Linked DNA regions of Homo sapiens. The protein of the gene in region 2 binds, or shares a complex with, the protein of the main gene of each other region. Each region holds a gene or a part of one and is shown on either strand. Other genes may lie near its edges. The genes, in order: SPTSSA and SPTLC3.

The links.
Region 1: SPTLC3 (region 2) and SPTSSA share a complex: the UniProt entries of both Homo sapiens proteins name them as parts of the serine palmitoyltransferase (SPT) complex.

The regions. Positions count from the first base shown.
Region 1 is NC_000014.9:34,458,922-34,466,454, forward strand, and holds the start of SPTSSA (serine palmitoyltransferase small subunit A), read right to left. Parts: upstream 3,320-7,533; 5' UTR 3,287-3,319; coding exon 3,175-3,286; intron 1-3,174. UniProt on the Homo sapiens protein: Component of the serine palmitoyltransferase multisubunit enzyme (SPT) that catalyzes the initial and rate-limiting step in sphingolipid biosynthesis by condensing L-serine and activated acyl-CoA (most commonly palmitoyl-CoA) to form long-chain bases.
Region 2 is NC_000020.11:13,165,972-13,169,603, reverse strand, and holds the end of SPTLC3 (serine palmitoyltransferase 3), read right to left. Parts: 3' UTR 501-3,632; downstream 1-500. UniProt on the Homo sapiens protein: Component of the serine palmitoyltransferase multisubunit enzyme (SPT) that catalyzes the initial and rate-limiting step in sphingolipid biosynthesis by condensing L-serine and activated acyl-CoA (most commonly palmitoyl-CoA) to form long-chain bases.

The DNA.
Region 1 (7,533 bases), on a different chromosome or scaffold from region 2:
TGAGACGGAGTCTCACTCTGTCACTGAGGCTAGAGTGCAGTGGCGTGATCTCGGCTCACTGCAACCTCCGCCTCCCGGGTTCAAGCGATTCTCCTGCCTCAGCCTCCCGACTAGTGGGATTTCAGGCGTCCACCACCACACTCGGCCCACAACTTCAAATTTTTAAAAATGCATTATATAGCAGGAAATGTAAACTAATGCATCTATCCTCTTTAAGAAATTAATCTGGGCCAGGCGCGGTGGCTCACACCTGTAATCCCAGCACTTTTGGGAGGCCAAGGCAGGCGGATCACTTGAGGTCAGGAGTTTGAGACCAGACTGGCCAACATGGTAAAACCACCCCACCCCCACCCCACCCCCAACTCCGCCTCTATTAAAAATACAAAAATTAGCTGGGCGTGGTGGTGGGCACCTGTAATCCCAGCTACCTCAGAAGGCTGAGGCAGGAGAATCGCTTGAATCCGGGATGCAAAGTTGCAGTGAGCCAAGATTGCACCACCACACTCCAGCCTCGGCAACAGAGCGAGACACCGTCTCAAAAAAAAAAAAAGAAAAAGAAAAAGAAGAAAATTAATCTGGCCAGGCGTGGTAGCTCATGCCTGTAATCCCAGCATTTTGGGAGGCTGCAGTGGGCAGATCACTTGAGGTCAGGAGTTCGAGACCAGCCTGGCCAACATGGCGAAACCCCATCTCTACTAAAAATACAAAAATTAGCCAGGCGTGGTGGCAGGCACCTGTAATCCCGGCTATTCTGGAGGCTGAGGCAGGAGAATCGCTTGAACCTGGGAGGCGGAGGTTGCAGTGAGCCAAGATGGCGACATTACACTCCAGCCGGGCAACAAGAACAAAACACTGTCTCACACACACACACACAAAGAAAAGAAATCAATCTGAAGTCTTCCTCTGTTCAGGACTTCTAACTCAGAGACAAATTTTCAGACAGGCAGAGGCAAATTTCTCTAAATTTTAGGTTTCTAGGATTGATGATTAAGTTGAATGTAATGTTTAAGCTGTAGAAAGTATGCCTCTTTCCAAAAGCCTGTAGCTGGCCACAGATTAGTTCTGGGTGAAGCTTACTAATCATTAATGGATTTATGAAATTCAAACTACTTCAGAGTAAGCCTCCTGACAAGTAGGGAAAAAAATCCAGTTTTCTCATTCAGTTCTTTCCACCAAGCTAAAATGAGGATTCAATCTCAAATTGATGTTCCAAACTATCAGATAGTTTTAAATGATTCTAGAAGTTGAAGTGGAAAAATATAAATACAACAGCTGATAGTAATTCAAGACTGGCTTATGTCAAACAATTGCATTTCTAACCTGAGTTAATTCAATAACGTGAAATTTGAAATAAGATTTTTTTATCTTAAGTTTAAAATCATAAGGTTCTATAATATTGGATGTCAGTTGGTTGCAGTTCTCACCTATTTGAAAAAAAAATTGAAACTACTTGTCGCTAAACCATGGTAACTCAAAAACATTAAAGGCAAATATCTACTAAGGCACTATATTTCATTTCATAATTTATTTCTCCATCCCCCAAAAAAGGCATCACCTAGTTATTTATAGGACACTATCACTATTGCAACATAACAGAAAAATCTTAACATCATTGATAACTGTAGCATTTTAGTGTGTAAAATCTATATTAGATTTTAGGTGTCAAATCTATACTAGATTCTAATAGTGCACTCTACATTCAACCTCTGATTTAAAGAGTTTCATTTTAACCCAGCATTGTTTAAATTAATTTTAGGATGTGTTATGTCAGTCAAGATATACTTGCTTCTACTGAGAGACTTCTATTAAATATGCATTCAAGTATATATTTTACAAGGCATGACCTTGCGAGCCCTAAAGAGTGAGACTAAACTGCAGCTACAAATAAATGGTGCAGGAAATCAAAGCAAACTATATTCAGAGTCTAAATCCAAAATATGCATTCTGGTTCTTAAATTCCAGGTTTGGAAAGAAATGCCAACAGTAATAAATAAATAAACTGCTTTGAAAGCATCTCAAATTCCTCAAAAGTGCTTAAACAAAAGACTCAGCTTTGAGTACAACCTTAAGCTATCTCAAAACAAATAAACACACTTGATAAGGCTTAGAATGAAATTACCTCAGTCACTCACTGGAATGCAACAATGCATTCGCAAAGTTATTCTGAAGTAAGCTACTCCAACTAAACCACACTGAAAAGGAGAGAACGTGGATAAACTAAACATGTTTTGTGAAATACCTGTTTTGTATTGGCCTGAGTTTTTTAAAAGTTACATCTCATTCATTATCAGTATTTAATCTGCAAGAATATCATCAAAGGATGTCAATATGGACAAGCAGAGACAAGAAACATCAGACTTTCAGGGAGCCTATCTTCACAACCCTGAGTTATTAACTGAAGTTCTCAAAGTTAGATGAGTTAAGATACAGACAACGTGCTTTGCACAAATGCTTTGCTTATAGTAACCACTCAATAGTCATTAACAAGAATTTATTAACTATCCACCAAAACACAGTTTCAAACCCTACCGACAACTAACCACAAATTGCACCACTTTTCGGGCCGACTTCTACGGACGGTGCACAGAAGCAATAAATACACTTTTAAAACTCCCCAACTTGAAGACCAAAAAGATACAATAACTTAAACTGCTTTCAAAAACTACTGGAGTGTCATGCCTACAAATTCAGAACCTGGCTTAAAAGCTAGTTAACTGACTAGAATTCTTGGTAGACCCAAAGCCAACTAAATCAGGAACACTTAAAGGTCAAAGGCGTCCAAGCCGGGAGCGATGTGCTCCACTGTTACATGATCCCCGCCTCCTACAGGAACAGGGGACTGAACCAAAGGCAGTTGCGGCCGAAGTGCAGGCGACACACAGGGTTACACATCACCTTCGGAGATTTCCTCCAGGAATCAAGACGCTTCCCCCTTGGGTCCAGCGACTCACAGGTGACCCCGGATCTCAAGAGTTCTCGTCTCCCCCACCCCCCACTTAACCCCGCGAGCGCCGCCCTCGGCCCCCAGACCTCCCCCTGCACCCCCGGCTTCCGCGCACAGGACCGGCGGGGCCGCCGCTCCAGCCTCCACCCCAGGCCCGGGGCCTGGGGAAATGCGGCCCCGCGGCCCGCGCCCCCAGCCCGGCCCCCGCGCGCGCGGCCGGGACAGGATACTGAACACCGTCCGCTCCCAGGGCTCCAGCATGTAGAGCGCCGTGACCAGCAGGTACTGGTAGTAGAACCAGGACATCTGCTTCCAGGCCCGCGCCAGCGCCATCCCCGCCATGCGCCTCCCGCGATGCAGCTCACACGTCAGTCTGTCCGGCCGGCCGCCCGCTCACGTCCTAAAGCCCCCGGCCGCCAGGCCCGCCCGCCCGCCACCCAGCGCCCATTGGCCCGCCCGGCCCCGCCGTCACCCGCGGCACGCCCAGACCCGCGCGCGCCCCGGCCGCCGGCCCCCAGCCCCGCCCGACCCGCGCTCATTGGCCAGGCCGCTACCTCGCGTCGCGTCGTCCCCTCCCGTTTCCCCGCCCGGGCATCGCCCACGCTAGCCGGAGAACGGTCCCCGCGAGAGCGCCCAGCCGCGCCCCACCCCGCCCGGGCCGGCCGGTGGTGGGCGGGGCGTCAGTGCCGGCCGGGGTCCCGGGGCCCCCGCAGCCCAGCGGGCGCTCGGTCCGTCCAGACTGGCCCAGAGCGCTTGCGGAAGAAATATTTCTGGAACACTTGTTATGCCTCAGGCATCCTTCTGAGAAGGAGGATTGCCAGGGAGAACCGGAATGCCTTCGGTTCCTTACCTTGTGCAGCTGGCGGCCTAGCTGGGAGACAAGCATTAATCAAGTCGTGATCCGTGTAAGAGGAGATAAGGGGCTGAGAGAGGGTGAGGAGGCGAACGCCACCTAATAAGGAGGTCTGGAAAGGCGTCCTTGTAGAAGGGATGCACATTCGGCCTCCTTCCTCCCTTCCCCCACCCATGCACACACACACACACACACACACACACACACACACACACACACACACCCCTAGACGGACATAACCCATGCACTCCCTAACCCAGAGACCACTTACCAAAAACATCTATCTGCCCACCTCTTAGTGGCTGTAGGTAACCACCAAGTGGGTCAAGGCCAGAAGCGCGCTGATCTAGTGGGTTCTGCAGAAGACAGGCAGCTTGAGATTGGTGTGAGGGCTGGTGATACTTCCCTAGAGATGCACTCCTGGATGCCCAGATTTTCCCACTGCCAGATGGGCCAGCAACATTGCACTGGCCACAAGGAGCTCCATGCACTGGTGTAGCATGTGAACTGCCACAATTAAATGGCCTGCTGTTTAAATGTTAAAAGTCTTCCAGGTTAAACATACTACTGCTTAAACTTTAAAAGTTTCATGGTTAATAACTATTCATTAAAAGTACCAAGTGCCGGCCAAGCGCCGTAGCTCATGCCTGTAATCCAAGCACTTTGGGAGGCTGAGGCTGGCGGATCACTTGAGTCCAGAAGGTCGAGACCAGCCTGAGCAACATGGTGAAACCCCGTCTCTACCAAAAAAAATAAGTAAATACATAACAAAAAGTTAGCCAGGGGTGGTGGCGTGCACCTGTAGTCCCAGCTACTCAGGAGGTTGAGGCGGGAGGATTGCTCGAGCACGGGAGGTCGAGGTTGCAGTGAGCCAGGATGGTGCCACTGCACTCCATCTTAGGTGGCAGAGCAAAAGAAAGGAAAGAAAGGAGACAGAGAAAGAGAGGAGAAAACAGAAGAGAAGAGAAGAAAAGAAAGAAAACAGTAAGTAATATCAAGTGCCAGACATTGGGATAGCAAGCCAGATAGACTGAGACCTGCCTTCATAAAGTACCCAGTCTGCTGGGGAAGAGAGGCAAGTTAATGGATTACAGTGAGGTGTGGTAAATGATATTTTTGTGGATCGTATCCTTTAGGATACCAAGATAGCCCAGACAAAATCAGATTGGGCTTGTGAAAGTCTTCTGAGAAATGGTGCTTGAACTGAGTGTTGAAGGACAAGCAGAAATGGAAGAATGAATGAGCTTGGGGAAGAGAGGGTGAGACAGACATTCTAAGGATGAAGTTGTGATGTTTTTAGAAGACTGGAAGAACTTCCATGTGGCTGGAGCAAAAAGAATGTATATGCAGTAGCAAGAGATGGGCCTAGACAGCAAACAGGGACCATATTCTGAAGGACCTTGTTTGAGAAGCTAAGAAATTTTTAACTTGATGTCCAAAAGTTACTGGAGCCAACAACTTAAATAAGATTTTCTTTCAGGGCTGGGTGTGGTGGCTCACACCTATAATCCCAGCACTTTGGGAGTCCAAGGCGGGTGGATCACATGAGGTCAGGAGTTCCAGACCAGCCTGGCCAACATGGTGAAACCCCGTCTCTACTAAAAATATAAAAAATTAGCCGGGCGTGATGGTGGGTGCCTGTAATCCCAACTATTTGGGAGGCTGAGGCAGGAGAATCGCTTGAACCCGGGAGGCGGAGGTCGTAGTGAGCTGAGATCACACCATTGCACTCCAGCCTGGGCAACAAGAGCAAGACTCCGTTTAAAAAAAAAAAATGCTTTCGGAACAAGACTTGGGTGTGGGTAGTAGCCTGGAGGCTACCGAGGGAAAAAACAGGTTGGGAAGACATTACAAAGGTAGAACCCACAAATACTTGAAACCTCCTTACCCCTCAGAGATGCAGGTACACGTGCCCTCCTACTTTCAAACTTAACTGTTTTGGACTTCTTTCTGTCCCTGTTCCTGTTCAGGCACAGGCAAGCTCATTCCTTTTTCCTCGAGAACTCCAACTACCCTCAGCATCTGGTGATGCTACATAAAATTCATCCAAGATTGGAAGCATCACCCGTAGCCACCCTTCCTTTACTGGGTCCACTCCCTAGCACCATGTCTGCCAGGTGGTTGTCCTCACTGTTAGTAGCTCCCAATCCACTGCGTGTCTCTCGGAGACCAGCTCTACCACCTCATCTCACTAAAGTTGGTGACTGACTAGAAATGAGGAAAAGAGGCTGAGATCCTGGATGATGACAATACAAAGAAACCGAAGGAAGACGTTTGGCTGAAAAGATATTGATTTTGTTAGGATGAAGCTATGTCTGAGGTACCTGAGGGACACTTAAATGGAGGTGTCCAGGGGACAATTGAGCACATGGTTTGGAACTCAGAAGTGAAGCCTGAATGGAACTAGAGGCATATGAATTTTCAATATGTCCCTGGTCATTGAAGCCAGAAGAGCAGATGAGGTCACCCAAGGAAAGCACATAGAATGGGAAGAGCAGGGTACAGAATAAACCCAGAGATTCTGGCATTTGGCCAATGAGAGTCCAAAGGAAGCCAATACAGGGAAGGAGCTACCTGAGATTTGACAGCAATGAGGAGAGACATACAGGAGAAGCTAATGGAGGAAGGGATAGCCAGCAGAACAAATGGCTCAGGGAGGATAAGCAAAATAAGGAAGGGAAGCGCCAATTTGTTTTGTCCACATGGGGCTAGATTGATGACTCAGCATTTCATTGTGGAATGATGATAGGACAGAAGCCGGATTATAGAAGGCTGAGGAGAGAACAGGAAGTAAAACAATGAGGACAGTTAATTCAGGCTTAGTTTTGCAGGAAGCTTGCCTGTGAAGGGAAGGAGATAGAATGGTGGCAAGGGTTTCAGTTTGGTTTCATTTTCAGATGGGAAAGGAGTAAGCAAGTTTATGGGCTTAGAGTAAAGATATGGATAAAGATGGTGGGCTGGGGGACCAGATCCAAAGCCTTAATAAACAGGAACTGGTAGCTCTTTCCCCAAGAGGAGGAGGATGGAAAGATGGGAGCCAGATGGACATAAACACAGACAAGTAAGTTAAGGAACTCCCTACCTTACAACATCAGTTTTCTTAGTGAAAAAATAAAGGCCTCTTGTTGAGAGTGAGCAAGATGTTGAAGAGTGGAGGGTATGAAAAAGAAAAAGGGAGATGGGAGAAGTTTCCTAAAGCTGCCTAAGGATTGTCAGGCAGAAAAACCATACAGTTTTTACCAACAATACACAAGTACCGAGTATATATAGAACTAGAGAAGTTGAATTAGGAGACTTCCTCCAAGGCAGGGTTTGCTGGATGGATACAATGGAGAAACAAGCAAGAAGGTTGATGGAGAGAGAATAATTGAAATAATGACTAGGAGAATTAGGTCACGGAGGGAAGTAAATGATGAAAAGATAAAATGGAGTAGTCCAGAGCTGTGTGAGGTTGGAAACTGTAGGAGTAGGTGCATGGGAAAGAGTCTATGTTGGAGGAGGAGGGCCACGGCTGTGCTTCTGAAGCTTAGGAGTACAGAAATAGGCCAGTCTTAGACAATGACCAGGCACAGGTTGTGACCATGGGATAGGCAGCTAAAGTGGAGTGGAGGGGATAGTAAAGACCACAGGAAAGATAAAGTTGTCCAGGATGATGGCAGAACTAAGTGTCGAGAGGAAAAGTCTGTAAAGCAAATGTCAAAGTCTTCAGTGAGCATAGAGGAAAACTCAGGAGACA
Region 2 (3,632 bases):
ACCTGCCCAAGGTAATGCCTGGCCCCACACCTCTACTGATAGCTTGCATCTGGCATCCTTGTCATTTTGACTTGACCCTAAAGGACCATCTCAGTTGCCCAGTTTCCATGGAATTGGCTGAGGCCTTTGCTATGATAACATCATAGTTCAAATTCTTCCTCTTTCCAATCCTGTTCCTTTACTCTTACGTTTGTATTGTACCATTGTAGGTGGTCTCAGTGGTGTGCTAGTAAATGTTTAACAGACAGCTCTCTAGAGCCCTGACTTGTAGTGTCTGCCAATTTCCATGGTGTAAATACTCCCATTGTGGCCAATTTCAAGCTACCAATCTGATGTCACTGAATGAGGAATTAGAAAGAAATGTGCACAATTAGTTCTTATCACAGTGCAAGCCAGCTCCAGCCACCCCTACCAATTTTCCCAGTGGAATTCCTAAATACAAATCTCTACCTCAGTCTTTTTTCAGGGTAACCTAAACTAAATCAACAGAAAACCATCAATTATTTTCATATTATTTTTATTTATTTTAAAACTAACATTTTACAGGCACAATAAAGTGAAATTGGTCGTTTCAAATGTTTCAGTGAAACATACATTTCTCTCTGTCCTTCTCACACACACAAAGACACATGCACACACACACACACACACATGCACACCCCACGTACATCAGGACACCATAAGACAATGTCCCGCAATAATTACCTAAAAATATTTAAAATACAGACTCTTTAATTTTCTAAACATTATGCAGCTGAGTAGGGCATTCTAAAGAACAGACTTCAAATTGTTCTTACTGTTTTGAGACCAGGAAACATTGCCAAGAATTCACCAGATGCTGTTCTTAATTGCTGTTGTTACAATTGTTATTATTGCTATAAATCAAAATGTATATTTAAGAGTTAATGTTTCATCATCATCGGAACTTAGGTTTTTAAATCAGAGTAGGCCATTTATAACATTTGCTATCTCTGAAGAAAAATACAAAAGAATATTGTTCGTTTGAAGAACTGTTAAGACTTTTACCCTACTGAAGAGCTGTTGTTGGAATAAATAATCAGAGGTTGAAGGTTGTTTTTTAAAGAGCAGGAAAAGAAAACAGAAGAAAGATACTACATTCAGGCCGGGCACGGTGGCTCACGCCTGTAATCCCAGCACTTTGGGAGGCCGAGGTGGGAGGATCACCTAAGGTCAGGAGTTCGAGACCAGCCTGACCAACAGGGAAAAACCTTGTCTCTACTAAAAATAGAAAATTAGCCATGCTTGGTGGCACATGCCTGTAAACTCAGCTCCTCAGGAGGCTGAGGCAGGAGAATCGCTTGAACCCGGGAGGTGGAGGTTGCAATGAGCCGAGATCTTGCCATTGCACTATAGCCTGGGCAACAAGAAGAACAAAACTCTGTCTCAAAAAAAAAAAAAAAAAGAAAGAAAGAAAAGAAAGATACCACATTCAAAGCAAATGGGCATCTTATAGGGAATGATACAGAAAACTGAAGAAGGCATAATTTTACCCAAATGAATCGCAGATGGTTCTTCAATATTGGATCAATTTTTGTAGAAAGAGAAGTTACTTGGAAAATGGGAACAAAATGTCCCAATGAGAAGAGAAGGTTGACTGTGGAATAAATTAATTTTACCAGTATATATACACTTAATTATGAACAAGAGAATCAGAACAAGGTTCCTGCTATTAGAGTCAATTGGTTTATCAAATTAGAGTTTGAATAATGTTCTTAAATTTTGGCATAGATTAGAATCACGCAGGAAGGCTGGTTAAAAATGTAGATTCCTGGGCACTACAACTATTATGTTTCAGTAAAGGTCTGGTGTAGGGCCTAGGGGTATGGATTTTAGCCAGCTTCCTAGTAAATTCCAAAGCCTGTCGTCTCTGTAAAATCAAAGCATGCTGAAAGGCAATATGGTTAAACGTCCATGACACCATCGTTTCATAATGAGATTAGGAATAAGTCTATGCCATTTCCTTATTATACAGAGATAGCCTCCTTACAAATATCATCTGGAACCTTTATCTTCTGCTTTCCTGAGGTCATTTTCAAGAACATCTTCCATTTATTTCTCAACCAACCAGATTTTCATAGTTGCTTACTCCGTAAAGGAAAAATGCATATGTGTATGTGTGTGTGCATGTGTGTAAATGTGAACAGAAGGGCTGAGTGCGCATAACATTATAGAAAATTCTCTTTTCCAACAGATCTAACCAAAGACACATTTTTGGCTCTGATATAATTAGAGCTAAGGTCGGGGCGGTGATGTAGAGGGTAATGGTTGATGATATAATTATCAAGACTCAATAATCAAATAATTTTAATCATGAATTAAAATCATGAATTAAAATCATGAACTTATTAGCCTAGCATTTGAGAGCTTTTTCTTAAAAAAATTAAAAATCTCATTATTCACAATCACCCTCCTAATTAACCTTATTCTATATGACATATACTCTAATATTATTGGCCCTGTGGAGCTTGGGCACCTTCTAATGCACTGTGGAAGCATTCTACTTGGATTATACCTGTATATCAACAGTTGTTCTCATACCTGTATATTCAACATGGACTCTCTAACAGAAACAGGTCCTTTTGTTTTGTACATTGCAGTGTAATAAATTGCCCCTGTACTCTTGAATCTTGATGAAAAGAGACTAACTTCCTCCCTGCCTTCCATGCTGGGTAGGTAAGTAGTTTCCCACAATGAATTAGACCCAATATCCTCCATGAAAGTAATAATAGTGGACATTCCTGCTCATGAAGACACATGTCTAGGGGCTTAAAACTTGAAGTGTAGATGTGAAGGTGTGTGTAAACATCACAGACAGATCCAGAAAGAAAGGAAGATGTTTATTGCTTTCCATACCTTGTGGAAGGACTAGATATCTCGCTGTCTTTTTGACCTCCTGTTTCCTTTATAGAACGCAAGGCATTTATGCATTTTGGACAATTCATTTAAATGCACATATTCAAGATAAGAACAGTATGTCTCCCTTTCTTTGCATATTTATGACACATTTTATTTGCACAAATAATACTGCATCAGTTTCATTGAGAAAAGTTGGAATTTTGTTATCAAAATCATTGGATGGGAAACTGCATTTTCAGAACCCACTTCTTTTCCTCTTTCACTAACGGTATTCCTTACAACTTGTAAACATTCATGAAGAACTCTATCATTGTGATCCATTTTTAAACCAATGCACCCACTTGGAGTTATAATTTCCCCATAAAAACTTTCCATGCTGATCACTTTTTTTCCTTTAATACGCTTTGAGCATCAGGGCACACTGCTCCATCCATCGCAGGCGCTGCGGGTGGAGTTTCTATCTCAGTGCACAGCATGAAAGCTTGGGTCCATCTGTGCCACACAAAACCAAGCCTCTCTTGAAGTGATTTGTTTACAGTGTCATTTGATGGAGTGGAATGTTCTGCAACTCATTCGAACTGTTACAGAAGCTTTGCTAAAAGGTCACCACTGCTCTCTAGAATTTCCAAATCTGGGCACCCTCTGGGAGCTTGTTAAAGATAAGGTTCTCCATGGGCTTTTTCCATACAAACTAGATCAGATTAACAAGAGGCTACTTTTCCATAGAGGTTTGTGTTCATGTTGAGAAGGAGAGC